4 separate regions of the Homo sapiens genome follow, and all the other regions are reported to be linked to region 2. The links are microRNA targets in miRTarBase. Many come from high-throughput screens and were not tested one by one. Region 2 holds a microRNA gene; each other region holds the end of a gene's coding sequence.

Evidence for each region. Region 2 holds the annotated microRNA hsa-miR-6886-3p (UGCCCUUCUCUCCUCCUGCCU, at 1,307-1,327, opposite strand). A microRNA usually pairs through its seed, bases 2 to 8, with sites in the 3' UTR of a target mRNA and lowers its output. Matches are read on the target gene's strand: a 7mer-m8 pairs with bases 2 to 8, a 7mer-A1 pairs with bases 2 to 7 and ends in A, and an 8mer does both.
Region 1: the mRNA of FBXO47 is a reported target of hsa-miR-6886-3p. The part of its 3' UTR that is shown has no 7-base or 8-base seed match.
Region 3: the mRNA of NPTX2 is a reported target of hsa-miR-6886-3p. Seed matches in the 3' UTR shown: 7mer-m8 at 4,618-4,624.
Region 4: the mRNA of SPPL3 is a reported target of hsa-miR-6886-3p. Seed matches in the 3' UTR shown: 7mer-A1 at 2,635-2,641, 7mer-m8 at 1,758-1,764 and 7mer-A1 at 1,192-1,198.

What each region holds. Positions count from the first base shown.
Region 1 is chr17:38,930,574-38,937,792 of GRCh38, forward strand. It overlaps FBXO47 (F-box protein 47), which reads right to left. Exons shown (of 11, transcript NM_001008777.3): 11 at 5,859-6,717. The coding sequence ends at 6,602. Among named protein-coding and RNA genes, the nearest start is that of LASP1NB, 8.6 kb to the left of the region's middle. RefSeq lists an enhancer at 1-212.
Region 2 is chr19:11,110,838-11,114,837 of GRCh38, reverse strand. It overlaps MIR6886 (microRNA 6886), which reads right to left and starts at 1,364; the gene lies at 1,304-1,364. It overlaps LDLR (low density lipoprotein receptor), which reads right to left. Exons shown (of 18, transcript NM_000527.5): 8 at 3,199-3,324; 9 at 1,389-1,560; 10 at 1,076-1,303.
Region 3 is chr7:98,626,263-98,633,902 of GRCh38, reverse strand. NPTX2 (neuronal pentraxin 2) reads right to left here. Exons shown (of 5, transcript NM_002523.3): 4 at 6,559-6,738; 5 at 4,034-5,501. The coding sequence ends at 5,274. Among named protein-coding and RNA genes, the nearest start is that of NPTX2, 13 kb to the right of the region's middle. RefSeq lists enhancers at 4,359-4,972, 7,061-7,567.
Region 4 is chr12:120,761,718-120,769,215 of GRCh38, forward strand. SPPL3 (signal peptide peptidase like 3) reads right to left here. Exons shown (of 11, transcript NM_139015.5): 7 at 7,236-7,342; 8 at 6,608-6,771; 9 at 5,677-5,876; 10 at 4,546-4,655; 11 at 793-3,353. The coding sequence ends at 3,282. Among named protein-coding and RNA genes, the nearest start is that of ACADS, 40 kb to the left of the region's middle. RefSeq lists a silencer at 1,381-1,544.

The DNA.
Region 1 (7,219 bases), not on the chromosome of region 2:
CAGGGGCGGCCGGGCAGAGGCGCCCCTCACCTCCTGGACGGGGCGGCTGGCCGGGCAGGGGGTTGACCCCCCCTACCTCCCTCCCGGACAGGGCGGCTGGCCAGGCAGAGGGGCTCCTCACTTCCCAGTAGGGGCGGCCGGGCAGAGGCGCCCCTCACCTCCCGGACGGGGCGGCTGGCCGGGTGGGGGGCTGACCCCCCCACCTCCCTCCCGGACGGGGCGGCTGGCCGGGCGGGGGGGCTGACCCCCCCACCTCCCTCCCGGACGGGGTGGCTGCCGGGCGGAGACGCTCCTCACTTCCCAGACGGGGTGGCTGCTGGGCGGAAGGGCTCCTCACTTCTCTGACGGGGCGGCTGCCGGGCGGAGGGGCTCCTCACTTCTCAGACGGGGCGGTTGCCAGGCAGAGGGTCTCCTCACTTCTCAGACGGGGCGGCTGGGCAGAGACGCTCCTCACCTCCCAGACGGGGCCGTGGCCGGGCAGAGGCGCTCCTCACATCCCAGACGGGGCGGCGGGGCAGAGGCGCTCCCCACATCTCAGACGATGGGCGGCCGGGCAGAGACGCTCCTCACTTCCTAGATGGGATGGCGGCCGGGAAGAGGCGCTCCTCACTTCCTAGATGGGATGGCCGCCGGGCAGAGACGCTCCTCACTTTCCAGACTGGGCAGCCAGGCAGAGGGGCTCCTCACATCCCAGACGATGGGCGGTAGAGTGGCCTCTTCTAAGTCAGTTTTGTGCCCATCTATTTTAAACAAAAATAAAACCAAAGTCATATATTAACAGGGGAACAGAAAAAGCCATTGACACAACTTCCATTATAAAATCAAACACACCAAGGCAGATACATTAGAAATGTTTAAGAACATCTTTGTACTTAAAATTTAAACTGTGAGACTGCCAGGTGTGGTGGTGGCTCACGTCTGTAATCCCAGCACTTTGGAAGGCCGAAGCAGGTAGGTCACTTGAGGTCAGGAGTTGGAGACCAGACTGGCCAACATGGTGAAACCCCATCTCTACTGAAAATACAAAATTAGCCGGGCAAGGTGGCACATGCCTGTAATCCCAGCTACTCAGGAGGCTGAGGCAGGAGCATCACTTGAACCCGGAAGGTGGAGGTTGTAGTGGGCCGAGATTGCGCCACTGCACTCCAGCCTGGACGACAGAGAGAGATTCGGTCTTAACAAAACAAAACAAAACAAAACACAAAACACAGGCTGGGAGCAGTGGCTCATGCCTGTAATCCCAGCACTTTGGGAGGCTGAGCTGGGTGGATCACGAGGTCAGGAGTTCGAGACCAGCCTGGCCAACATGGTGAAACCCTGTCTACACTAAAAATACAGAAAAAAAAAAAAAAAAAAAAAAACCTGGGCATGGTGGCACGTGTCTGTAAATCCCAGCTGCTCAGGAGGCTGAGGCAGAAGAATTGCTCAAACCCAGGAGGCAGAGGTTGCAGTAAGCCGAGATTGCACCATTGCACTCCAGCCAGGCGGCAGAGCAAGACTATCTCTCAAAAAAACAAACAAAACAAAAAACAAACACCGTAAGAGGCCGGGCACTGTGCTTCACGCCTATAATCTCAGCACTTTGGGTGGCCGAGGTGGGGCAGATCACCTGAAGTCAGGAGTTTGAGACCGGCCTTTCCAACAAAGTGAAACCCCAGCTCTACTAAAAATACAAAAATTAGCCAGGCGTGGTGGTGTGTGCCTGTGGTCCCAGCTACTCAGGAGGCTGAGGCAGGAGAATCGCTTAAACCTGGGAGGCAGAGGTTTCAGTACGACAAGATCGCACCACTGTACTCCAGCGTGGGTGACAGACTCTGTCTCAAAAAAACACTGTAAGATCTTATAGTCATGGGAAATTGCAGGTAATCCACAATATTTAATTACATATTTTATTTTTTGAAACTGATATTAAGCTATGATAATTGTAGCATTTCTAGTTTAGCAGCAATTGGAATATTCATTGCTTACGGATTTAATCACTGAATTAAATAGCAGAACAGTGCAGAATACTGTTCTATAGATTATTGTTTATGAGTTATTGCTAGTAAATGAAATTATTTAATTTTATATGTTAATATTAAGTGTAAGTATACACATACATAAATATACAGCTAATTACAATATTAATTTATATTAAGACATTTCATTTTTTTGATCATGGTAGAGCTATAATTAACAGCTTAAATGAAGGTAAGTTCCCCCACAAAAAGCTCAATGACTTGCATAATGACAAACTCTGAACAAGATGGAATGTTTTCAATTTTAACATAGTTTTATTAATATAGTAAATAAACAAAATTTAGCAAATATCAAATATTTAGTATCAAAGAAAATTTACCATAAAAAGAATACTTCTGAAATAGCAATGCATATTTTCGTTATACGCACCTTTAAGAAAGCAGTGATCTCAGAATGTCTACAAGTATTACTATTATTATTTTAATTTAAGAGTCTTTCAAAGGCCAAATTGTTGCGGTTTGTGGGGTTCTTTTTTCAGTCTCTAGTTTGAGGAATTTTCTGGAGTTATATTTTTCTTTTTTTTTTTTTCAATCTTGCCCTTAAATGCAATATATTTGTTTTCTTGATGAAAAGAATGCAATCTTAGTCCTTTGGAATTTTTTTTCTTTTTTAACCTGGAGAAGACTGTTCAATGCAGCTATCTTTCAGGTCACCTTTCCTAGCTTAGTAATGCCTCAAAAACCAAGGAGCATATGTCCATATCCTGATTTCTTACAGGTTTCACAGTTACCTGCTAGTGGAAGTGCTACAGAAGTCACGTTGTTAGTAAGATATCCAATAACCAAAGAGGCTTTTGTAATAGCCTTATTTTTACCCTTCACAATATTTATTGACATAAAAATCTGTAATCATACATTTGAGTACTATTTGCATAAGGAGGTTAACCTTTTAGTAATAATCACAAAGAGGTTAGTGTTTGTTATTCATTGACATAAGATGGTATTTCCAGCTGCACCTTCTGTTGGGTATCTCATAATTGGCATGAGCAGGAGTCCTCCAAAAAAGTGTTAAAGTTTCATAGTTTCACAAGATACAGAGAGCTTATCACAAGTTGTACATTTTCAATTAGTTTCTAAGGAAGATAGCATCATTAGTTTGTTAGTACTATTATGGTGCATGGTGTCTGTAGACATAATAATAAAGATAAAGATAATAATGTGTTATTGAACTTGCCTTCTACAGGGAGTAAAAAATCATTCTACAAATCAAAGTCAAAGGAGGCTGAGGAAAGCATTACAAAAACGAAAAAGGAGCTGGGCCCCCAGGTCTGCTAATTTAGGCCAATCTTTTTTTTTTTTTTGAGTCGGAGTCTTGCTCTGTCGCCCAGGCTGGAGTGCAATGGCGTGATCTCAGCTCACTGTAACCTCCGCCTCCTGGGTTCAAGCAATTCTCCTGCCTCAGCCTCCCAACTAGCTGGGATTACAGGCGCCCGCCACCATGCCGGGCTAATTTTTGTATTTTTAGTAGAGATAGGGTTTCACCATGTTGGCCAGGCTGGTCTCTTGGCCGGGCTTGTCTCGAACTCCTGACCTTGTGATCTGCCGCCTCGGCCTCCCAAAGTGCTAGGATTACAGGCATGAGTCACCGCGCCCAGCAGCCAATCTTCTACTTTAAAAAACAGTACAGGCTAAATTATCTGACTTGTTAGTACTTTACATAGTTATGTTGTTATGACTGTTCCAGAGTTAGTGAGAAATTGACAGTCTCCTAATGTTTTTAAACTATTCATTTTCCAAATGCTCTTTTTTTGTGACAATGACTGCCTATACCATCACTTAAACATTGATAATAATGGTAATAACAACATATGCTTTTAAAAGTTAATTTCCCCTTTAAAATTTGACATTACACTTTATTCTTCATGACAAAGGTATTCGGCAAAAAAGAATGGACCACTGAATTGAAAAAACTCCAAATTTGGTCATAAATGTTATTTGTATGTTTTAACAATTGAATGGACAATTTGTCAGCTTGCTTTTTATTGGTGGCAGAATGACACAGTTTATTTCCTGCACCCAAAGAATGAATCAAACTTTTTATGTTCCAAATTTTTGGTAAGATGATATAATAATCTCACAATTATTGAGAATAATGAAATAAATAATGTGAGGTTTTTTTTTAATTACAGCAGCAGTCATGTCAGTTCAAGTGAATAAAGAAGATTCAAAACCCAGACCAAATATGTTTTACATGCTTCTTTTGTAAACTTGCTAAAAATAATTGCTGTGGAGATGGATAATTCAAGGAATTCAAGGAAACTTTACAATGCCAAATTTCTTTCTCTAAGGAAATGAAATCTAGAATCCATTTAGTAAAATATTAAAAATATTCACTATTGCTGGGCATGGTGACTTACACCTGTAATCCTAGCACTTTGGGAGGCTGAGGCAGGTGGATAACCTGAGGTCAGGAGTTTGAGACCAGCCTGGCCAACATGGCAAAACCCTGTCTCTGCTAATGATACAAAAAAATTAACCGGGTGTGGTGGCACACACCTGTAGTCCCAGCTACTGGGGAAGCTGAGGCAGGAGAATAGCATGAAGCAGAGAGGCAGAAGTTGCAGTGAGCCAAGATCACACCACTGCACTCCAGCCTGGGCAACAGAGTGAGACTCCATCTCAAAAAAAAAAAAAATTCACTATTTATATTTGAATATTTTACTTTTTTTTCCTTATTTTTTCTTTCCCTCACAGATAGTTGAAGAGGTATATTCTTAACTTGGAATAATCAATGTTTTGATAGATCTATGCTTTGCAAGCATGTATAGGAAAAAAGAGAGGGGAAAATGAAAAAACTAAGGTATTATTTTATACTCTGGTATCTGCCAACTTTTAATCTTTGTAATTCAATTCCATTTATAATTCAACTGAAGGTGAATTCTTACATTGAGAAGAAGAAAATGAAATCAGGATAAAAGCAAGAACTTTGTTTTTGCATAAATATGCTAATGAAAAACTGGAGAAAAAAATTCCTGCCACCAATGGAATTACAGTTGGAAAATCCATCTAAGAAAGACAGTTAAACTTCTCACCTTCCAGAAATGAAGGTAAGTGCCTTTACTACTGAAGTACAATAAAATCCTGTTTTCACAATTTGTATTTTCTCCACAATTTTCACTCTTCCTCAGTCCTATTCATCTCTCACTGAGTCCCTCTTACCAAACATTTGAGAATTTCCCACAATTTACCCCCTACTTCTGCAGATACTTTCCATATCTTCTAGTGTTTCTTTCCTTCATCAGCTCCAAAGGTGAGTTAAATCAAGAGCTTGGGTAAAGAAGGCCAGCCTCTGAGAAGTCCAGGTGGAAGCAATGTGTCTTCAGAAGTAAAGTGCTCAAACCCAAGGAGAAAAAAATGGGATGGGAGATCCAGGAGGACTCCAGCATTATTTCAGCCCTGTCAAGTACTGTTACTATCTACTTTAATAGTAAAAGTAAAAGCAGGAGTGGCAGATGCTAGTCAGGCTGAAACAGTCCTGCAGCTTCTTGGAATCTATATACTTGAGAGAAGAGAACCGAACCCCACTCTCTCATGGGCTGCTGTAAACCACCCATACGTTTAGTTTCCTTTGTCAAATCTTGTTTTTTTGTTTTGTTTTGTTTTGTTTTGTTTAGAAACAGGGTCTCACTCTGTCACCAGGCTGGAGTGCAATGGTACAATCATAACTCACTGCAGCCTCCAACTCCTGGACTCAAGGGATCCTCCTGCCTCAGCCTCCAAAATTGCTGGGATTACAGGTGTGAGCCACTGTGCCCAGACAAATCTCACTTTTTAAGATAGGGAGAAAAGCTTTAGGAAGAAGTAAAAACTATTTGTAAAGATTATTCTGGCAGCAGAATCGCTATTTTCTTTCATTTTATTTTTCTCTTATTTGCTACATTTTATTTGAATCCCCAGTAAAAGATGATTTGATTGCATTGAGACAATATATACCTTCCTGTATGTATAGACCTTTTGTATGATTACCTTAAAGAAGGAAATATATGTCTGTGTGTGTGTGTCTATATATATATATAGACATATATGTATACTTTGTTTTTTATCCATTAGTTCATGTAAAACATGAACAAAATATAATGTTCTTTGTAAGCATATGCCAAGAAGGTAGTAAAAACTGTGATTTGTATTCTACACATTCCAAAACACCATATTGCAAATCTTCACAAAACATTCTGGGCTATGTCTATACAACTTAAACAAAGTGAACATACACACTATTTAGTGAATTTGGGTCTAACTATAAAATGGAATTTTCTCTTGCTTCAAAAATGCATACATACAGGTTGGCTGGTCCCAGATTCTTGAACAGCTAACATTCTATTTTGGTTTGGTGTTAGGTTGACTAAAACCCGGAGAGGCAGAGCTTGTTTTCCAGAGAAATCTCAGCACATTCTTGAGGCTGCCTGTTATTTTTATATTAATAATGATGTACGTAGTTGCTTCTAAAATTCTATCCAGCTTTTGAATTCTTAGGTTACTTAGATGATAAAAAGTCCCATGGATGCTATTTTTTGAGTGAAAAAGTAGCACTCCTCTAATCATTCGTTCAGTGACGTTCTCTAAAGGCAAGGCTTTCTGAGGATTTAGGTAGACAGAGGAGTATTCATGGTCAAATACAGGACCTCCTTATGGAAGTTAGCCTGAGCATGTACAAGATGGAACAAATTCAAAAAGCTTCTGTCATCTTCATCACGGTCTCCTATATGCCATACATAGTGGGGAAAAGAAAATGACAGTTAAAATGTTAAGTATATAATTTATTTTATTAATTAATTTAATTTTTGAGACACAGTCTCCCCCTGTTGCTTAGGCTGGAATGCAGTGGTGCCATCTCGGCTCACTGCAACCTCTGCCTCCTGGGTTCAAGCAATTCTCCTGCCTCAGCCTCCCGAGTAGCTGGGATTACAGGCATGTACCACCACACCTGGCTAATTTTTGTATTTTTAGTAGAGATGAGGTCTCTCCATGTTGGCCAGGCTGGTTTCAAACTCCTGACCTCAGGTGATCCACCCGCCTTATACGTATATAATTTATTTGAAACATAAGATGTTCTAATTTTCCCTAGTAATATTTATTTATTTATTATTATTTTTTGAGACAGCGTCTCCCTGTGTCGCCCAGGCTGGAGTGCAGTGGCACAATCTTGGCTCACTGCAAGCTCCACCTCCTGGGTTCAAGCGATTCTCCTGCCTCAGCCTCCC
Region 2 (4,000 bases):
TCTCAAAAAATAAAAAATAAAAAGGGGGCCGGGCGTGGTGGCTCACGCTTGTAATCCAAGCACTTAGGGAGGCCGAGGCGGGTGGATCACAGGGTCAGGAGATTTAGACCATCCTGGCTAACGCGGTGAAACCCCGTCTCTAATAAAAATGCAAAAAATTAACCGGGCGTGGTGGCGGGTGCCTGTAGTCCCAGCTACTCGGGAGGCTGAGGCAGGAGAATGGCGTGAACCTGTGAGGCGGAGCTTGCAGTGAGCCGTGATCGCACCACTGCACTACAGTCTGGGCGACAGAGCGAGATTCCATCTCAAATAAATAAATAAATAAAAATAAAAAGGGACGCTGGCCATAGCGGGCCCACCTTCACCCGCAGGCATCTGATGATGCTCTCTTCCCTGCTTTTCCCTTCCAGACACCAAGTGTGCCTTCTCCAGTGTTCTCTGCTGGAAACCCAACATTCACCTCCTGATTGTAGCTGCAAGGACAGTGTGCGTCCCGGGTTGTCAGCACCACACTGAAACTGTGAAATGCCACCTCTCACGTGCTTAGGTAGCAGATGTCACCTGACAGGTACAGAGTACACCGGGCAGGTGGCAGGGGCGATGCTTCCTGCCAGGGGACACAGGTCACAGTGTCTTGACCCAGGAGCTGCTGAGTCAGCCATGGGCTTGGAAGATACCATCCTGTTGTCTAGCCACTAACCAGTTTTTTGTTTAGTTTTTTTTTTTTTTTTTGAGACGGAGTCTCACTCTGTCACCCAGGCTGGAGTGCAGTGGGGCTGTCTTGGCTCACTGCAACCTCCATCTCCCAGGTTCAAGTGATTCTCCTGCCTCAGCCTCCCGAGCAGCTGGGATTACAGGTGCCCACCACCACACCCGGCTAATTTTTGTATTTTTAGTAGAGACGAGGTTTCACCATGTTGGTCAGGCTGGTCTTGATGATCCACCCACCTTGGCCTCCCAAAGTGCTGGGATTACAGGTGCTTTGAGCCACCATGCCCAGCCCACTAACCAGTTCCTGAAGCTCCTTCCTGCTCCCTCCATTCCCTCTGCAGCCCTCAGCGTCGTGGATACGCACCCATGAACAGGATCCACCACGATGGCCCTTGGCTTGGAGCCGTTCTCCCTGAATAACGTTTTCCTCTTCACGCCCTTGGTATCCGCAACAGAGACAGTGCCCAGGACAGAGTCGGTCCAGTAGATGTTGCTGTGGATCCAGTCCACAGCCAGCCCGTCGGGGGCCTGGATGTCTCTGCTGATGACGGTGTCATAGGAAGAGACGCCGTGGGCTCTGTCAAGCTGGGTGCTGAGGCAGGAGGAGAGAAGGGCATCAGCGCCAGGAGCCCTCATCTCACCTGCGGGCCAAGGCTGCAGGCAGGGGCGACGCTCACCTGCAGATCATTCTCTGGGACAGGTCAGACCAGTAGATTCTATTGCTGGCCACCTCCGTGTCCAGAGCGACCACGTTCCTCAGGTTGGGGATGAGGCTGGTGTACTCGCTCCGGTCCAGCGTCATCTTCCTGACCTCGTGCCGGTTGGTGAAGAAGAGGTAGGCGATGGAGCCTGGGGGTCCGGGGAGCGAGGTCAGGGGGTCAGAGGGGACCCGTCGATGGAACCAAGAGTGCCTCCCCATCCCCTTGTGTCATCCTGCAGGGTGCGGCTGAGCCAGAGGAGGCACCCAGAAAAAGAGGGTGGAAAAGACCTCCCAACGGGAACAGGCACAGTGGCGCCCACCTGTAATCCCAGCACTTTGGGAGGCTGAGGGAGGAGGATCACTTGAGGCTAGGAGCATAAGGCTAGCCTGGGCAAGACAATGAGACCTTATTGCCACAAAAAAAAAAAAAAAAAAAAAAGCCAGGCACGGTGGCTCAAGCCTGTAATCCCAGCACTTTGGGAGGCTGAGGCGGGAGAATCGAGACCAGCCTCACCAACATGGTGAAACCCTGTCTCTACTAAACATACAAAAACTAGCCAGGTTTGGTAGCCGGAACCTGTAATCCCAGCTACTCAGAAGGGTGAGGCAGGAGAATTGCTGGAACCTGGGAGGTGGAGGTTTCAGTAAGCCAAGATCGCACCACCGCACTCCAGCCTGGGTGACAGAATGAGACTCTGTCTCAAAAAAAAAAAAAAAAAAATTAACCAGGCATGGTGGCACATGCCAGTACTCCCAGCTCCTCCAGAGGCTTAGGCGGGACGATCACGTGAACCCAGGAGGTCAAGGCTGCAGCGAGCTATGATGGAGGCTGCACTGCACTACAGGCTGGAAGATAGAGCAGCACCCTGTCTCTAAAAAATAATAATAGCCAGGTGTGGTGTCTGTAATCCCAGCACTTTGGGAGGCCAAGGCAGGAGGATCACTTGGGTTCAGGAGTTCAAGACTAGCCTGGCCAACATGGTGAAACCCTGTTTTTACTAAAAATATGAAAATTAGCGGCTGGGCGCAGTGGCTCACGCCTGTAATCCGAGCACTTTGGAAGGCCGAGGTGGGCGGATCACGAAGTCAGGAGATCGAGACCATCCTGGCTAACACAGTGAAACCCCGTCTCTACTAAAAATACAAAAAAATTGGCCTGGTGCAGTGGCGGGCTCCTGTAGTCCCAGCTACTGGGGAGGCTGAGGCAGGAGAATGGCGTGAACCCGGGAGGCGGAGCTTGCAGTGAGCCGAGATCCTGCCACTGCACTCCAGCCTGGGCAACAGAGCGAGACTCCGTCTCGAAAAAAAAAAAAAAAGAAAAAAGAAAATTAGCCAGGCATAGTGGCATGCACCTGAGGTCCCAGCTACTCCGGAGGCTGAGGTGGGAGGATCAACCAATCCTCCTGCCCTCAAGCAATCCTCCCGCCTCAGCCTTCTGAGTAGCTGGGACCACAGGTGTGTGGCACCATGCCCAGCTAATTTTTTTTCTTTAACCCCTTGAAGTCACTCCCCAGGTTGTCCCTGAAAGGAAAGCCGGTTCCTGTTCCACCAGTAGGGCTGAGGGTTCCGTTAACTGGATATTCCCAAAAACTAGGACATATGCAGGCATCCCCCTGGCAAGCCCAAGTCCTAACAGGGCGGCAGACTCCCCTGCCAGAGCCCTCAGGAGCAAACAGCCTCCCGGTCAGGGGATATGAGTCTGTGCAAAGTTCAGAGGATGAAACTCCCCCACCACTGCTGCCTGCAAGGGGTGAGGCCGCCCCCACCCGCCGCCTTCCCGTGCTCACCCACAGCCTTGCAGGCCTTCGTGTGGGGGTCCAGCTGGAAGCCTTCCTCACACTGGCACTTGTAGCCACCCTCCAGGTTCACGCAGAGCTGGCTGCAGGTGTCGGGATCCTGACACTCATCGATATCTGGAAGAGAGAGAAAGAGGCTTGGTGGGGAGGCTCTTCCCCAATGGCTAGAGACGGAGCGATGGGGCCCAGGCCAAAACCCACACCTTCGAAGGCAGCCAGGAGACAGCCCAGCCTCTCGGGAGATGTAATCAAGGAAACAGCCAGGTGTCATCCCCAGTCATCACCTGACCTCATCATTCACCACGGGAACCCAACCAAGAGTGTGAAGCTGTGTCAGCTGAAATTTCTTTTCTTTTTTTTCTTTTCTTTTCTTTTTTTTTTGGATGGAGTTTCACTCTTGTTGCCCAGGCTGGAGTGCAATGGCACGATCTTGGCTCACCACAACCTCCACCTCCCAGGTTCAAGTGATTCTCCTGCCTCAGCCTCCTGAGTAGCTGGGATTATAGGCATGCACCACCAAGCCCGGCTAATTTTGTATTTTTAGTAGAGACGGGGTTTCTCCATGTTGGTCAGGCTGGTCTGGAACTCCCGACCTCAGGTGATCTGCCCGCCTCGGCGTCCCAAGGTGTTGGGATTACAGGGATTACGCACCCGGCCTGAAATTTCTTAATTACTAATCCCCAGAGGCAAGAAACTCTGGCCAGCCAATGATAGTTTTCCATGCAGGTGGAATCTCATGAAACCCTCCTAACTGCTTTCAAGCACACTTAACAGATGGGGAAACTGAGGCATG
Region 3 (7,640 bases), not on the chromosome of region 2:
TGGAGTGTTTAATACCTTTACATTTAATGTGATTACTGATAAAAGTAGGGTCTATATCTGCTATTTTGCTATTTTTTATTTGTCTAATTAATGTGTTTTGTGTTCCCTTATTTCCCATTACTGCCTTCTTTCATGTTAAATGAGCATTTTGTGGTGTAGTATTTTAATTCCCTTGTTTCTTTTAATACATTCTTTCAAGTTCTTTTCTTAGTAGTTGCCTGAGGTACAATTAACATCTTAATTTATAATGATTGAATCTAGATTAACACCAACTTCATTATAATAGTAACAAAAAATTTGTTTTTACATAGCTCCATCCCCTCTCCACTTTTTTGTTCTGTTATTGTTGTACAAATTGCGTCTTTATACATTTATGCCCATCAATGCAAATTTATAATTATTGCTTTATGCAGTTGTCTTTTTTTTTTTTTTTTTGAGATGGAATCTCACTCTGTCACCCAGGCTGGAGTGCAGTGGCGTGATCTCGGCGATCTCGGCTCACTGCAACCTCTGCCTCCTGGACTCAACCAATTCTCCTGCCTCAGCCTCCCAAGTAGCTGGGATTATAGGCGTGCGCCACCACATCTGGCTAATTTTTGTGTTTTTTAGTAGAGACAGGGTTTCCCCATGTTGGTCAGGCTGGTCTTGAATTCCTAACCTCGTGATATGTCCACCTCGGCCTCCCAAAGTGTTGGGATTACAGGCGTGAGCCACCACGCCCAGCTTACAGTTGTCTTTTAAATCAGATAAAAGAAGGAAAGAGTTATAAACAAAAAAATACACTTACACTTTTATAATTACATATATAGCTACCTCTAACAGTGCTCTTTATTTTTTCAAGTAGATTTGAGTTACCGTCTAGTATCCTTTCGCTTTGGCCTGAAGGACTCCCGTTGGTATTTTTTTGTAGAGCGGATCTACTAGTGTTAAATTGTCAGTTTTTGTTTATTTGGAATGTCTTAATTTTGCCTTCATTTTTGAAGGATAGCTTTGTCAAATATAGGATTCTTGGTTGACAGTCTTTTTCTTTCAGCACTTTGAATGTGTCATCTCTCTGCCTTCTGGCATCCATAGATTCTGACGAGAATTCAGCTATAAATTTTATTGAGGATTCCTTGTACATCTTGAATCTCTTCTCTCTTGCTGCTTTCAAAATTGTCTGTCTTTACTTGGTTTTCAACAGTTTGTAATATTTCTGGGTGTGAATCTCTCTCAGTTTATCCTACTTGGAGTTTAGGTTTTTAAAAATTGTATTTTATTTCTCTCCCCAAATTCCAAATATCAACAAGTCAGGATGACTACTTCTAAGTATATCCTAAATTCTTCCACTTTTTTTCTGTCTCCTCTGCTACTTCCCTAGTCCAAGCCATCATGACCTCTTACCTGGACTAGTACAGTAACCTCCTCACGAGTCTTCTCTATTTCCCTTTACAATGCTCTACAGTTTATTCTCCATCCACCAGGAAGAGTAGTGGGCTTACAATATTAATCACATTATCACACTCCTCTCCTTAAAACCTCCAGGCTTCCCATTTCATTGAGATCTCAACACAGGCTCTTTGTCATCTGATCCTACAATCTCTTCATCCCATCCACTCCTCTCCTCTCCTGTGAATGCAGCCAACCTGGCTATTTCTTCTCTTGAACATCCAAGCTCAGCTCTACCTTAGGGCCTTCACACTTCCTGTTCCCTCTGTCTGTGAGGTTCCACCCAAGATTGGTTCCCTCTCTTCATTTAGGTCCCAGCTTAAAGGTGACCCCAGAAAGTAGTTCCCCAGTGACTCCCTAACACATCACCAGCATTTTTCTTGTTTATATATTTGCCTTCTATCTACACTTCCCACTGAAATTAATCTCCATTTAAAAGGAGAACTTTGCTATGTTGCTCACCATTACATCTCGAGTGCCTGGAATAGTTGCTGACACAAAGTAGGTGCGCCAGATATTTGTTGACAGAATAAATGATAACATCTGTGCTCAAAAGGAAGTCATCTTTTCTTTCTGAGAGCTTCTGTATAAGGAGAGCTGATGTCAAAGCCCCCAGAGGCTGGGCAGGATCTTGGTCTGCCTTTCCTATTGGTGGAGACCTGGTCCCAGCCTGCCTTTGATTTAGCTGCATTTTATTACTTTTCAATTCATTAATCATTGATCATTTGGCTACCGTTTCCATGACAACCCTTAAGCAACCTGAATATTCCATCATCCAGGACAATCTCTACCCCACCCTTCTTGGAGAACCCAGTTTGCTATCAGTATCTTTCCAGCCTTGTACAAAAAATAAGTCTTGAGGCTGGGCGCAGTGGCTCACGCCTGTAATCTCAGCACTTTGGGAGGCCGAGATGGACGGATCACAAGGTCAGGAGATCGAGACCATCCTGGCTAACATGGTGAAACCCCATCTCTACTAAAAATACAAAAAATTAGTTGGGCGTGGTGGCGGGCACCTGTAGTCCCAGCTACTCGGGAGGCTGAGGCAGGAGAATGGCGTGAACCTGGGAGGTGGAGGTTGCAGTGAGCCGAGATCGCACCACTGCACTCCAGCCTGGGCGACAGAGCGAGACTCCGTCTCAAACAAACATACAAAAAGAGTCTTGAGTGGGGGAAACTGAGGCCACAGGTCTCCTTCACATGGGAGGATCAAGGCATAAGGAACTTGCTGGATTGCATAAATGATTCTTGTTTCTGCTTGTATGTCAGGAGGACCAAACTGCCAACAGGAGGACTGGTGTGCGGCTATGATATGGAGAGGTGGTTCTCTCATCTTCAGGTCAGATCAGCAAGGAGCAGTTTGATCCCATGTTGTGGGCTCAAAGCTCTTCCAGTTGCAGGGAGGAAGTTATCTGGCTCAGCAGCGTTTCCAAAGCCCTGATGCAAAGCGATGCTCTTGTGGGAGGCAGTGCCTGGGAAAAAAGTTGGGCTGGCTCAGCACCTGGCATGCATATGAAGTGAGGAAACCCCTCAGCACCTTTCAGGGGGAGATCTGAGTAGCTGGTGTTTCCAGCATGAAGGAGATTCAAAACAAACTGCTCTCCGCCTGGTCTCAGCACTTTTGAGTTTCAAAGGTCCCTGAGCAGGATATCTGGCCTCATTTCATGTTCTACCCAACACCAGTGGTATTTAGTTCTTGCCAAGTTATACTTCACAACATCAAAAATGGACTCCAGGAACCTCTGTGACCTGCCGGTCTTGGTTTTAGAGGTTATGGCTTCCATTTCAGCCTTGGTATCAAGTACATCTGGCATAAGTTGTCAGTTGGCTCCAAGATTAGGCTCTGCTCCGCAATTATAATAGAAATTGACATTGCTACTTGGAAAAGGCCGCAATTATAATAGAAATTGACATTGCTACTTGGAAAAGGGACAAACTAAGTTACATTCTGCAGCTACCAAGACAGAGTAAAACGACAAAAGTGGAAAGAGGTGGTGGTGGTGGGCGGTGGGGGGGATCTAATGCTTGTGAGACCATCAACGCACCAGCCAGGGCCAGGTGAGCACAGAGAGGCGGATCTGGGAGGACACAATGGCACTGGGCCCCTTGGAGTGAGCAGTGGAAGGGACAGAGCCCTCAGAGCCACAGGACGGCTTTGAGCCCAGCTCTATCCTCTATCGGCTGCATGATCCCAAAATAGCTTTAATTGTTGTGTATTCACCTGTAAAATGGGATTAGCTCATTCAGGGAGGATTCAATGAGATGTCTAAAGAACACCTACACAGAGTAGACGCTAAGCAGGTACCACACCTGGAAGGCGGCCGCAGGTCTTCTAGCTAAGCTGGCTCTCCTGGTTGAGAAGACAGGGGTGAGCTGGGGACAAGGAGCCTGGGCAGAGCCTGCCAGGCACCCACAGCCTGAGCCAGGCATTGAAATAGGAAGGATGGACAGCTGGACCACACCCTCCTCTAACCATCCTCAGCGCCCCCAAACCCACCAGAAGCAGGCTGCGGCAAACCAGAGACATCATCCTTCTGCCAGAAGTTGCAAAGCCCTACCCCTTCCCACCTTCAGCCCCAGAACATGAGGAAGACAAACACAGAAGCATCTTTCAGTGCACTTTAATCGAAATTCCATCATCAGAAGAGTTCTCGTAGCATACAATGTCAGGATGGGCATGTCGACTTGGTCCTACAAATGGAATATCCACAGATTTGCACTTCAAACATGTATGAAAAATAAAATATATAATATTTAGCTTTATAAATTTCCCCACTTAGTCACTTTATCTTTAAAATAAATTACTACTCCCGTCCAATACAGTGAGTAGCTTGGAGTCACTCAGACAATCTCTAGCCAAATGATCTCTGTTTTCTTGAGGAGTTCTGTAGGGAAATACTTGATGAAGACAGTCCAGTGCTTACAAGAATCAACATGAATTTAAAACGAGCACACTCTTCACAGTGGGGCGGAACATCAGAAAATGGGAGCCTTCTTCTAATGGCTGTTCTTTTCTGTTGGGAAAAAAAAAAAACAAATCCTCCAAACCACACCGGATGGTTGTAAAAAGCTGCAACGGAACCTTTGGCACCAGATGAGAAGAGAGGCCTTTTAATGCCATAGCTAGTGATGATTCAGTCAAAGCATCAGTCTAAGGAAGGATGATGGGGGAAGGGACCGGAGATCACAGCCCTTCTCCTTTCTGAGCCCCCCTCCCCCCCGATGTCCCCTTTCTGGAGACACAGACAGCCCCTCTGCTTTGGGGAAGGCGGGGCTTTGTCTGGGCAGGCTGGGCGTTCTTCAGACGGGAAGATTCACAATGTATAGAACACAAAGGGAGAGGCCCTTTTGCAGATCGGGGGGTAGCCGCTTGCTGCGAGCTTAGTCACCAGCGGGGATGCACTCAATGCACAAGGGACATGGCCACTCCAGCGGGACGGCTGCACAGCCATGAAAGGGGACAGACAGAAGGGGTGCACGGGACACCAAGGAACTGGAAGGCGGCAGGACTCAGGCTGCGATAGCATTTACAGGGGCTCTGAAGAGGGGCTGCTGGACCTGCCTCCACTTGCAGCAGGAAGGCAGATATCCACCCACTTGGGGCAGGTGTCTTGGGGGCATCTTCCCAGGGGACCCTGGCACTACTTCAAACAGCAACAGAATATTGGTAGGGAACAAACAAGCCAGTGACAGACACTGCCCCAGCCCTGGTCTTAGAGATTCCTGGGGAATGAGCTCTGGGAACCCTGAGCCCAGACTGACAAGAGTTTAAGTGGGGCAGTCTATGGCCCTGAACTTCCATGGCAACAGCCTGATCCCGGCCTCCTGGACAGAGGAGAAGGCGGCTACAAGTCAAGGAGACGCTCCTCACACGTCTCCACGGGCCACTTGGAGGCCCCTCCGAACACATCGACGTTATTGTCCACCCACGGGATGATGTTGCCCGGCATGTTTGTGGAGCAGTTGGCGATGTTGACAATTTCTTGTGCGCGAAGGACGCGGTCCCATATGTTGAACTGGCTGAGCTCCCCGACAAATGCCTGAGTGGCATCAAACCTACCCCCCACGGTGTCCTGGGGAATGGGAACAAGAGAGCTGCGTCAGGGCTGGTTCACAAGTCCCCCTGCACACGGGCTGCAGACAGGAGATTTGGGCATTTCTCTGATGCCCCCCAGCTCTGACCAACACTACCTGTTTCTGTAGGTTCTGAAGCTCCCAGGCATGTCAGAACTGGGAGGTGGCATCGCTCAAATCTCCCCATTTTATACAGGGGAAACTGAGGCTGGTAAGGGAAGACACTGCTCAAAGTCCCAAAGCCAGGATCAGAGCCAGGTCTCATGACTCCCAGCCCCTCCCAGCGGAGATGTAGCAGGGGAAATTGAGGGAGGAGTGGGCCAAGAAGGAACCAGACTCAAAGCCCCCCAGTGCACCTGGAGTCTACGCCCCACTGTCCATCATCAAAAACCCAAATACAGACTGGAATGCCAACACTTATCTGTCCTAGACCAGACAGCCAACTTAGCCATTCCCTCCCCTAGATGGTAAGTTTCTTGAGGGCACTTTGAGGTGCCACCCTTTCATCCCTGTCTCCCCCACAGGCTGAGCACCCACTATGGATTACCTAAGTGCCCCTTGCTGGGTATCAGGGTTAAGACCCTGAGCAGGGGGCTCCTGGAAGACACCAGCCCCACAATCCTGAGTTGGTACCATGAGCATCCCAGGAGGGTCCCTCACACAGCCTCCTCCCAGATGGAAGCTGGAGCCTGTGTCACGAGATGACCCATGACCACAGGGACACTCACACCCCTCTGTGCCAGGTTCTATTTGGAATCTGTTTGAACCACACACCCACCTGGTCCCTGCCATGCAGGCCGTGACCCCACGCCCAACCTCTAACCACAGGACAGCAAGGGCCAGGCTGCGGGGGTTCTCACTCCCCCGACCTGGCTGTCAGGACACTGTGGCCAGGTCTGAGGGGCCAACAGCTGGGGCCGGGAGCAGGAACAGCTGCAGGCCTGGCCTCGTGCTGCTCAGTTGGCCCCTCCTCGCACCATCCCTGAAAGGGCGCACGGCCACCCTGTGCCCATCCTGCACCCACCCTGTGCCCACCTGCACCTGCCCTGCACCCACCTGCTCTTGTCCAAGGATCAGCACGCCCCCGGGCTTGATGGGGTGCCAGGGGGCCAGGTTCTCCCCAGTGCCCAGCTTCTCTCCGTCCTGGAATGCCTCCCACATGCCATCCCGTGTCGTCCAGGTGACACAGATGTGGTGCCACTTGCCGTCACTGACAAACAGGGGCAGCTGCGCAACCTGTGAGCAGCAATGTGCAGGTAAGGACCTGCTGGGCCCACGCCCTCAGGGTCCCCCAGGGCAGGAAGCAGGAAGGACACCCCACAGTCCCCCTGGGCCACACTGCTCCTCCTGTCACCGGGGTCATGCGTGGAGAACATGCAAGGGGGCAGCCTTGGTGGAAACCCTGACCCCAGAGCAGCCCTCACATTAATGGGACACCCTTGGTGCCTGGCGTGGCTGAGGACCGAACAGATGTGAGGGTCAACACCCCCACGCTGGCCCTGAGCTCTCCATGCCAGAGAAACTCGGGAAGTCAGCGTTCCATGGGGCCAGTCTCCTTGGAAAACAGACGAGAGATCCTCATTCCTCATGCCAAGTCCCAAACCTCCATGATGGCACGCAGGGATCTGTGTGCTGCGGGTGTGCCCCGTCCTCCCTGCGCAGCGGCACGTGTGTGAGTATCTGTGTGAGCAGGGAACTCACGGACAGCGTGAGGAACTGGGGGGAGGACGCTGCCACTGGCCGGGTCCCTGGCGGTCCTGCAAGCACTTTCTATGCAGGCTCGCCTATGAACCACCGCGTTGTTGCTGCTGGTCTCCTAGCAACCCGAAGCCTCCCTCCCAGGAATTCGATGTTTACAAGCCGTCCAAACCCAGAGGACAACAAGGCTCTTAGCCCCACTGTGTCATAGGGTGTTATTTAGAACAATTATTTAACCCCTGGCTCAGGCAAGGGGGTCTATCTAGGAGGAGCCCAGCAGGCTGATGCCACAGCGTTTTTTAAACCTCGACAGACTCCACCCAGGGCAGTTCAGTGAGGACAAACAGAGTGAGGGGCTGAACTGCCCCCGCCTCCACCAGGGGTGGCCCGGGTGGCAGGGAGTTTGCGTAGCCACTCAAATGCCCAAATCCGGACAGGTT
Region 4 (7,498 bases), not on the chromosome of region 2:
CTTTACAAAACAGAAACGTACACACAACATGGGATCTGGTGAGCAGTAACGTGAGAGCTGCTAAGCAGACACAGCAGGTTCTATTTTTAACACTTGATTGGCAAAATGGAACTCCCTTCCCCTCCACCCTCACAGAGAACGAGTACTTTTGTTTTTCTTGTGGGTGACCTAACTTACCTGTTTACCCAAGGCCTGTGAGCCTGCTACAAAAGTAATTCAGACAGTAGCTTAGTCCCAAGCCACCGAACCGTTCCTATGCGGGGAGCTGTCACTGTCACATTCAGAAAGCGTATGCACTGTAATAACAGCAATGGAACACACTAGGCTTTGGACAGACTTTACTGTCATATCTTCATTAGCTCAAACTAGAAAAAAGAGTTATTAAAAAGCGGGAGTTCTAGTAACACACAGTCTCTTTGTGAGGAAAAAGGACTTCAGATCAGTGAGGAAGGAATCTGCTGAAATTTCATGAGCATGCCATGCCTAATGCAGCAGACTTCCTAGAAAACCCCTAAACCATGGTATTTGAGAAAACAGAATAAGAGGCGGACCTAAGTGTATCAGGCAGCGGGGAGCAAACGAGCACTGGAAGGGAAGTCTAATGTGTGCTTTAACTGCAGCCACCCACTCAACCCTCCGAGACGAGTAGAGTATTTGCTGTTTCTCTGCCAAAGTTTTAAGGGAGTGTTTTAAGGGCTTTGAAGATTAGCAACTGGAATCCAGGGTGCATTCACAGCCCTGTGTGGGTATTTCCCCCCAAAACCTGCACAGAAGTGAGAATGACAAAATAACGACGTTCCTTCTGTCTGGAATTTAATTTTCTTATGAAAACAAAGACAGAAAAATTAAAATGACCCACTGCCAGGATAACATTTCCTTTTTTTTTTTTTTTTTGAGATGGAGTCTCACCCTGTCGCCCAGACTTGAGTGCAGTGGCGCAATCTCTGCTCACTGCAACCTCCGCCTTCCAGGTTCAAGCGATTCTTCTGCCTCAGCCTCCCAAATAGCTGGGATTACAGGCGCCTGCCACCATGCCCAGCTAATTTTTGTGTTTTTAGTAGAGACGGGGTTTCACCATGTTGGCCAGGCTGGTCTCGAGCTCCCAACCTTGTGATCCACCTGCCTCGGCCTCCCAAAGTGCTGGGATTACAGGCATGAAGGATAACGTTATTTCTACCCATCACTGGCACTTGCCCTTAATCCGAGTCATTTTGGAGCCCCCCTCTCTGTCTCTGGGCCTGCTTAATTAGCTATATGCATCCTCGAGGGCTGAGAAGGAAGGAAGGGAGAGTCCGCAAGTGGATTTTTAGTCTTCACCCAATGCAGAGGCAGTTTTGAGTTCTGTGGACAGCAGAAGCTTCAGTTCTTTGATGTATCTATGACTGGGCCAGAGCTGCAGATGACCAGGTCTGGGGACAGACAGAGTCTTCCCATCAGTCTTCCAGAACAGGGAGGAGATGGCTGGGAGCTCTGTTTGGTACCAACAACCAAAGTGAAGATTATGTGACAAAGGCTACAAAGGAGTCATTTATTAAAAACAAAACCCCAGAAACCCCTCAGCAGGAATTGATGACAACAACAGAGGAATCCAACACCCTGACTGCTTCAGACTCTGTTGACAACAGGATGGGTGCCCCCTGTGAGCTCGATCCACAGTGACTTCAAGCCACAGTGACACAGCACACTAATTCATTACACAGGTCAAGACAGAGGCAGCCACTGGGGCGGGGACCCTTGGGGAGAGGCTGGAACTCAGGGCCCTTCTCCAGCCTTTGTTGTCAGGCATCCTCATGCCAACCGCAGGCTTCTCTTTGCCTCTGAACAATGGGCACCTTCTTACCAGGCAGGGGCTGCTTAGGTAAAGGTCAGCAGACCTAACACTAGTTACTCCCAGAAATCTGGGCTTGCAGCAGAGACCACAGCACAGGGCCAGGCTCTCAGGACACAGCAGCTGGTTCTTTCCCCAGTTACTGGAATTTAGGGCCCATCTCAGAGGGGCATTTGACATGTGTCCCCAACACCCGGTTGTCACCACAGGTAAACCAAGACTATAATCACAACAGCAAGGACAGGATTGTGTTGCTTTTTTCCTTTTTTTTTTTCTTAAAGGAGTGAGGGCATGGAAAATATACAGCACACCAATGAAACAAAATGTCAAAAAAAAAAATACAAAAAAATAGAAAATAGAAAAATGTATTTACAAGTAGTACGTTACTATGATGAGAAAGCACAAAGACACCTGCTGCTATAATACATGCATTGGCTCGAGAAGAAACTACGGAACACCCTGCGAGGGAGAAGCCTAGAAAAGAAAGAAAGGGCCAAAAGGTTTGAACTCTTCATCCCTAATTTGCTACACTGATCAAAACCAAGTAAGGGCTCCTGAAGTCCATGAGTCTATCATCAATCAGCACAAATGCTATACTAGTTTGTAACTGCGGGGTCAGTTGTGAAGGGGAAGGACAGCAGCTTATCCATATACAAGGAAGCCACAGTAAACTGCTCGACATGCTCAAAACGACAGCAAGCCCCTGTCAGCTACACAGCGTGATCTTAGCAGGATTTCATTTTTGTTTATTCATATATATCTATGTGTGTGTTTATATATATATATGTACGTATGTATAAAAACCGTGCCCTTGTTCACTGCCAACACAACATCTGGGTGGACATGAACTCATTACAACAAATTCTTATGTGGATGTTGTAAGAAGTCACTCAATGTCTGTGGATTTAATAAGTCACTTCACACCACAGAAAATATTTAATAAATCCAAAAAAAGGAAAGAAGAATATAACGACAGAAGAGCTTCTGTCTCAGTTCTCTGAAACTGAGTCCCCTATAGGAAACTGGTCCCAAAGTTCTCGAGGGGTCATTGAAGAAACTTCGGTTTGCTAATTTTTTTCATCCTTTTAGTGTTCAAAAGTTCTAGAAAGACTCCTCGCTGTTTTCAGTTTTTAAACAGTCAAATCTCCATCTCCCCCAGAAGGTAACAGTCTGGTGCAGATCCATAAAAACGTGGGAGGAAGGCGCGCTGGGGAGAGGCCTGTCCCTCTTGGAAGGGGCCCCACCTCTACATCCGCAGGAAGAGAAGGAACCAAACAGGGCTCCAGCACCTCTCTCCTGCAAACGAGCTCCCTTTAAATGCCAAATCCAGTCACACGGCAGTTCCTTAAACACAGGTACATTTCTGAGTACCAGGCCAGCTCTAAGAGGAAACAAACCATGAGTTGAGAGAAAAGGACTATGACGGCCATCTGGTCACTTTCCACGTGATCCATCATACTTCCAGGAATCGGGAGCTGCTGGACTTGGAGTGGAAAGGCTCAGACCACATCCGCCGGAGGTCGCCCTGGGAAACAAGGGACTTTCTAAGTTACAGATTTAAACATGAGGCACACACAGCTGTCTGATTCTTTAAAAAAAAAAAATTTTTTTTCCAGGTATGAAGTCTTCCTATATATTGGCCAGGCTGGTCTCAAACTCCTGGGCTCGGGCAATTCTCCTGCCTCGACCTTCCAAAGTGCTAGGATTACAGGCATGAGCTGCTGCGCTTGGCCCCTTTCTGATATTTTTTTTTTTTGAGATGGGTTCTCACTCTGTCACCTAGGCTGGAGTGAGTGCAGTGGCGAGATCTCAGCTCACTGCAACCTCCGACTCCTGGGTTCAAGCGATTCTCTTGCCTCAGCTTCCTGAGTAGCTGGGATTACAGGCACTCACCACCATGCCCAGTTCATTTTTGTGTTTTTAGTAGAGACAGGGTTTCACCATATTGGCCAGGCTGGTCCTGAACTCTTAACCCGCCTGCCTCAGCCTCCCAAGGTGCGGGGGTTACAGGCGTGAGCCACCATGCCCCTGGCCCCTTTCTGATGCTTGATCTGAGATCAGATTGCTTCTGTGGGAAACCAAAGAGCATTTAAATCTTACCCATTCAAAAATAACCCACTATTTTTAGGAGGACTCCCTAGAAGGGGTGCTTTTAGGCTCCCTGAGCAAGAAAAGGGCTTTTATCAACTCTCTAGAGGTAGTGAGTCAAGTGAGCTGGGCAAGTAAGTTGACCTCTGTATCTGCTTCCTCATCTGTAAAACGGGGCTGAGAATAGATATCTGGGAAATAATGTGCTCTTGAACTCTGGTTTTATCATATGCTGCCTCAACACTATTCAATCTTAATTATTCCCAAACTTTAACGTAGTGTTAAGCTGTTAGGTGGCAGGAGGGCACTGCTTTGAACAGAAGCAGGAAGTACCCTCAGCTGGGCTCTGGGGCTTTCAATTAGTTATTCCTCGACCAGGTGGTGTAGTGGTCTAGCTCATCAGCATTTTCTGTCAGTGGCTGCACGAATCTGGAAGCGTTTGCTAACGCCAGGGTAGCGCGCGCGCGCACACACACACACACACACACACACACACACACACACACACAGTCGAGATCACAAGCTCACTCAGGGGCTTAAGCAGAATCACCTCCAGCGAGGAGAGTGCAAACCGAGGCACAGGCCAATCCAAGTTATTGCTTTCACAGGTTTATAACTGCTGCTCTCACCTTTAAATAGGCCATCGTGAGGAGTGGCAATAAAGTAAATGGCACCAAATAGAGAAGGGCGGGCTGGGCGGCCCGGTGAATGCGAGACGCCACAGTAGCAGTGAGCAGGCCTGTGAGGAGAGAGAGGCATCTGTGAGACACGAGAGGGAACCCGTGTCACCTGGCTGCTGCTGGGCAAAGTCCTGCAACTGTACAGATCTAATGTGCTGTCGTCCATTCTATGGTTGGGGTGTGAAATGCCCAGCTTGGGCAGTTGAAGAAATGTGGATCAGCACAGCTTTAAAAAACACCTACAACTCCAAGGACACATGACTGACCCAAGTCTCACTCCTTGCTCAGGTTCCTGGGTTCAAACCCTCCTTCCAGCTCCAAGTGTGCCTCTGTCTCCTGTGATGCTGGACTTGGGAGGCAGAAGACCTGGGTTCAAGTTCCAACTCTGCTACTCACAATAGCTAACATAAATGTAGTTCAGACCTTCCACCTCTCTGAGCCTCAGCTTGCTCATCTGTCTAATGGGGATAATGCCACTTGCCTTGCCCCTCTGAGTTTGTGGACTGAAATGAACCCATGTGAATGAACTGCTGTGGGACGAGGACAGTGCTGGGGTTGAGGAGGACGTACGGAGTGCAAAAGCTCCTTTCCAGTCACTGTGCGGGAGCAGTTGCATGTGCGGGCAGGTTACTGCTTTTCCCAGCCCCATCACAATCATCTCCTGTCTGCCTACACATGAGCTGGCTACAAAACTTGGCCTAGGTCAGAGTGGCAGAAATGTAGAACTAATGAATGTAAGTAAGTATCTATTGAATAAAGTAGGAAATAAATACGACAGTCATTCAACTCTAGAGGAAGATTTAAGCACAGACTAATCCACTGCACTGTGTGCTGTGTGTCCTTGGCTTTGAGGACTGACCTGCTTTTCCTACAACGTTCTTCAGATACACAGCTGGAGAGGGAACTGGCCTATCCAGTACACAAAACACTTAGCATCTCACGGGCCAGGCTGTCTATTACAGCACCCAGAATTCCTGCTCTCCTTCCATCCAGTAACTGTAGCTAGAAGACCTGATTTAATTCCAAAGGTTGGAGGACAGCCAGAGCGAGGATCATCTGCAGTCTCTCTGGTTCTCTTACCTACAAAGTATCCGATGAGGGTGCAGTGAAAGTAGGAGACCTTCTGCATGCGCCCGGAGATGTTGGCAGGTCCAGGGGCCCCACAGGAGTCCCCACTGGCTTGCTTTTTGTAGTTGTCATAGCGAAGGACAAAGCATAGTAGGAGACCAGGCATAACGATGTCTCCGATGCCCAACATGGAGAAGTGGCTGCCAGTGGAGCTGGAATGCAGTTTCACAGGTTAGTGACGTCACACTCTACAATCCAGTTTCTATTCCTTTTGTGCAAAGTTTGTTAGCTTTTTAAGGAGTCAAAGAGCTTATCTGCATGGCAGATGGAAATCTCTTCTGATGGAACATTAGTTTTAAGAGTGTAGAGAGAAAAAGCTGCAACAGTACTGGCACTAGAGGTCTCCACCTTGGCCCCCCTGTTTCAGGAGAGCCCCTTGGAAGTGACTGCTGAAGTGATTTGCATAAGTGCTGCTTCCTCTAGAAATGTCAAACAATTCATCATTTGTGACACATTCACTGTTGAGACTTCAAATAAGCACCTGGCTACTATTACAGGTGGAAGATTAAAGCAGCACATTCATTCTGCCAAGATTATATTACCAGGAGTTGTATAATTCTACCATTAGAACTTATTTTTATAAATATCTTACAAGTTAAAAGGATCGAGATTCTCCTAACTCCCTCCAGCCAACTCTAAACAGTGGAAACAGCAGTAAGGCATGGCTGTTTGCTGACATTAATCAATAATAAAAGGCACCGCCTGGATCACTCAGTGATCCTTCTTGGCAAGCCAAGAATCTCATCCTCATTTCCTCTTCTGCAGCATGGAGATAATGGCCCCAGGTTGGGATCAGAATGCTGATGACATTAGAGACTGATCAAGGCCGGGAACAGATAGGCACAGGAAGACAGTGTGGTCCTGTCATAGCATGAGGTCTTACCTTGGGAAGACCAGTTTTCCAGGCAGAGACAGGCGAGGAACATCACGCCCAACATTGGGCCCCAGGTGGAGCTTCCGGGATAGAACGTCAAGGGGATTGTCAGCCGGCTGAGTGGCCACCTTCACCATGACGTTGCTATTGAAGATGTAGGCTGAGAAAAATACCTGCCGAGTTGGAGAGATGCCTTTAACAGAGGGAGTTGGAAGCAACCTGCTTTCAGCATCAGCCCTCCTTGCTCTTAAGAGCAGAGTCTCAGAATGCTGTGACTGCAATGCTTTCGTTGACTGTATGATTTGAGAAAATCTTTGCTCTTCCTGTGTACTTGCCAATTTCTGCACTCTCCACACCCAGAGATTACTCCCTGACGGGGTGGCCCCCACTGCAGCGAATCTTGTCAGCCTGTTACCTCTTCTATCCTAGGAGTCACACACACACACTACCTACTGTACGACTTTTCAGCAAACAAAAGGATCGGACTGCACACCCATGATACAGTTAAGGACTGGAGAGAGAGTGATCAGCAGCTGGGCAAGCCCGACTTTGGATACTTCTAGTTAATAGTTTTCAGGCATGAATGCTTCACTTCAACACAAAGAAGGGGAGGAGCTCCAAGGACATAAACGCTTACCCAAAAGACATCATAGATGAGAAGCCCTGAGAGAAGCAGGCAGGAGACCTTGAGGCTCGGCAGGCGGACAAAGGCGATCATGGCGACACAGAGGCCCATGGCCAGTGCTGGGGAGGAGACAGGGTACAGCAGACAGCAGTCAGTGTGGACTCCAGGCTCATCCTCTTTCCACAAGCTATGGCCCTTCACAGAGTTTGCAATTCCCTCAAAAATCAGGCAGCCCTAAGCTCCAGCTTCAGAAACTTACATGCAACTGGTGCAAA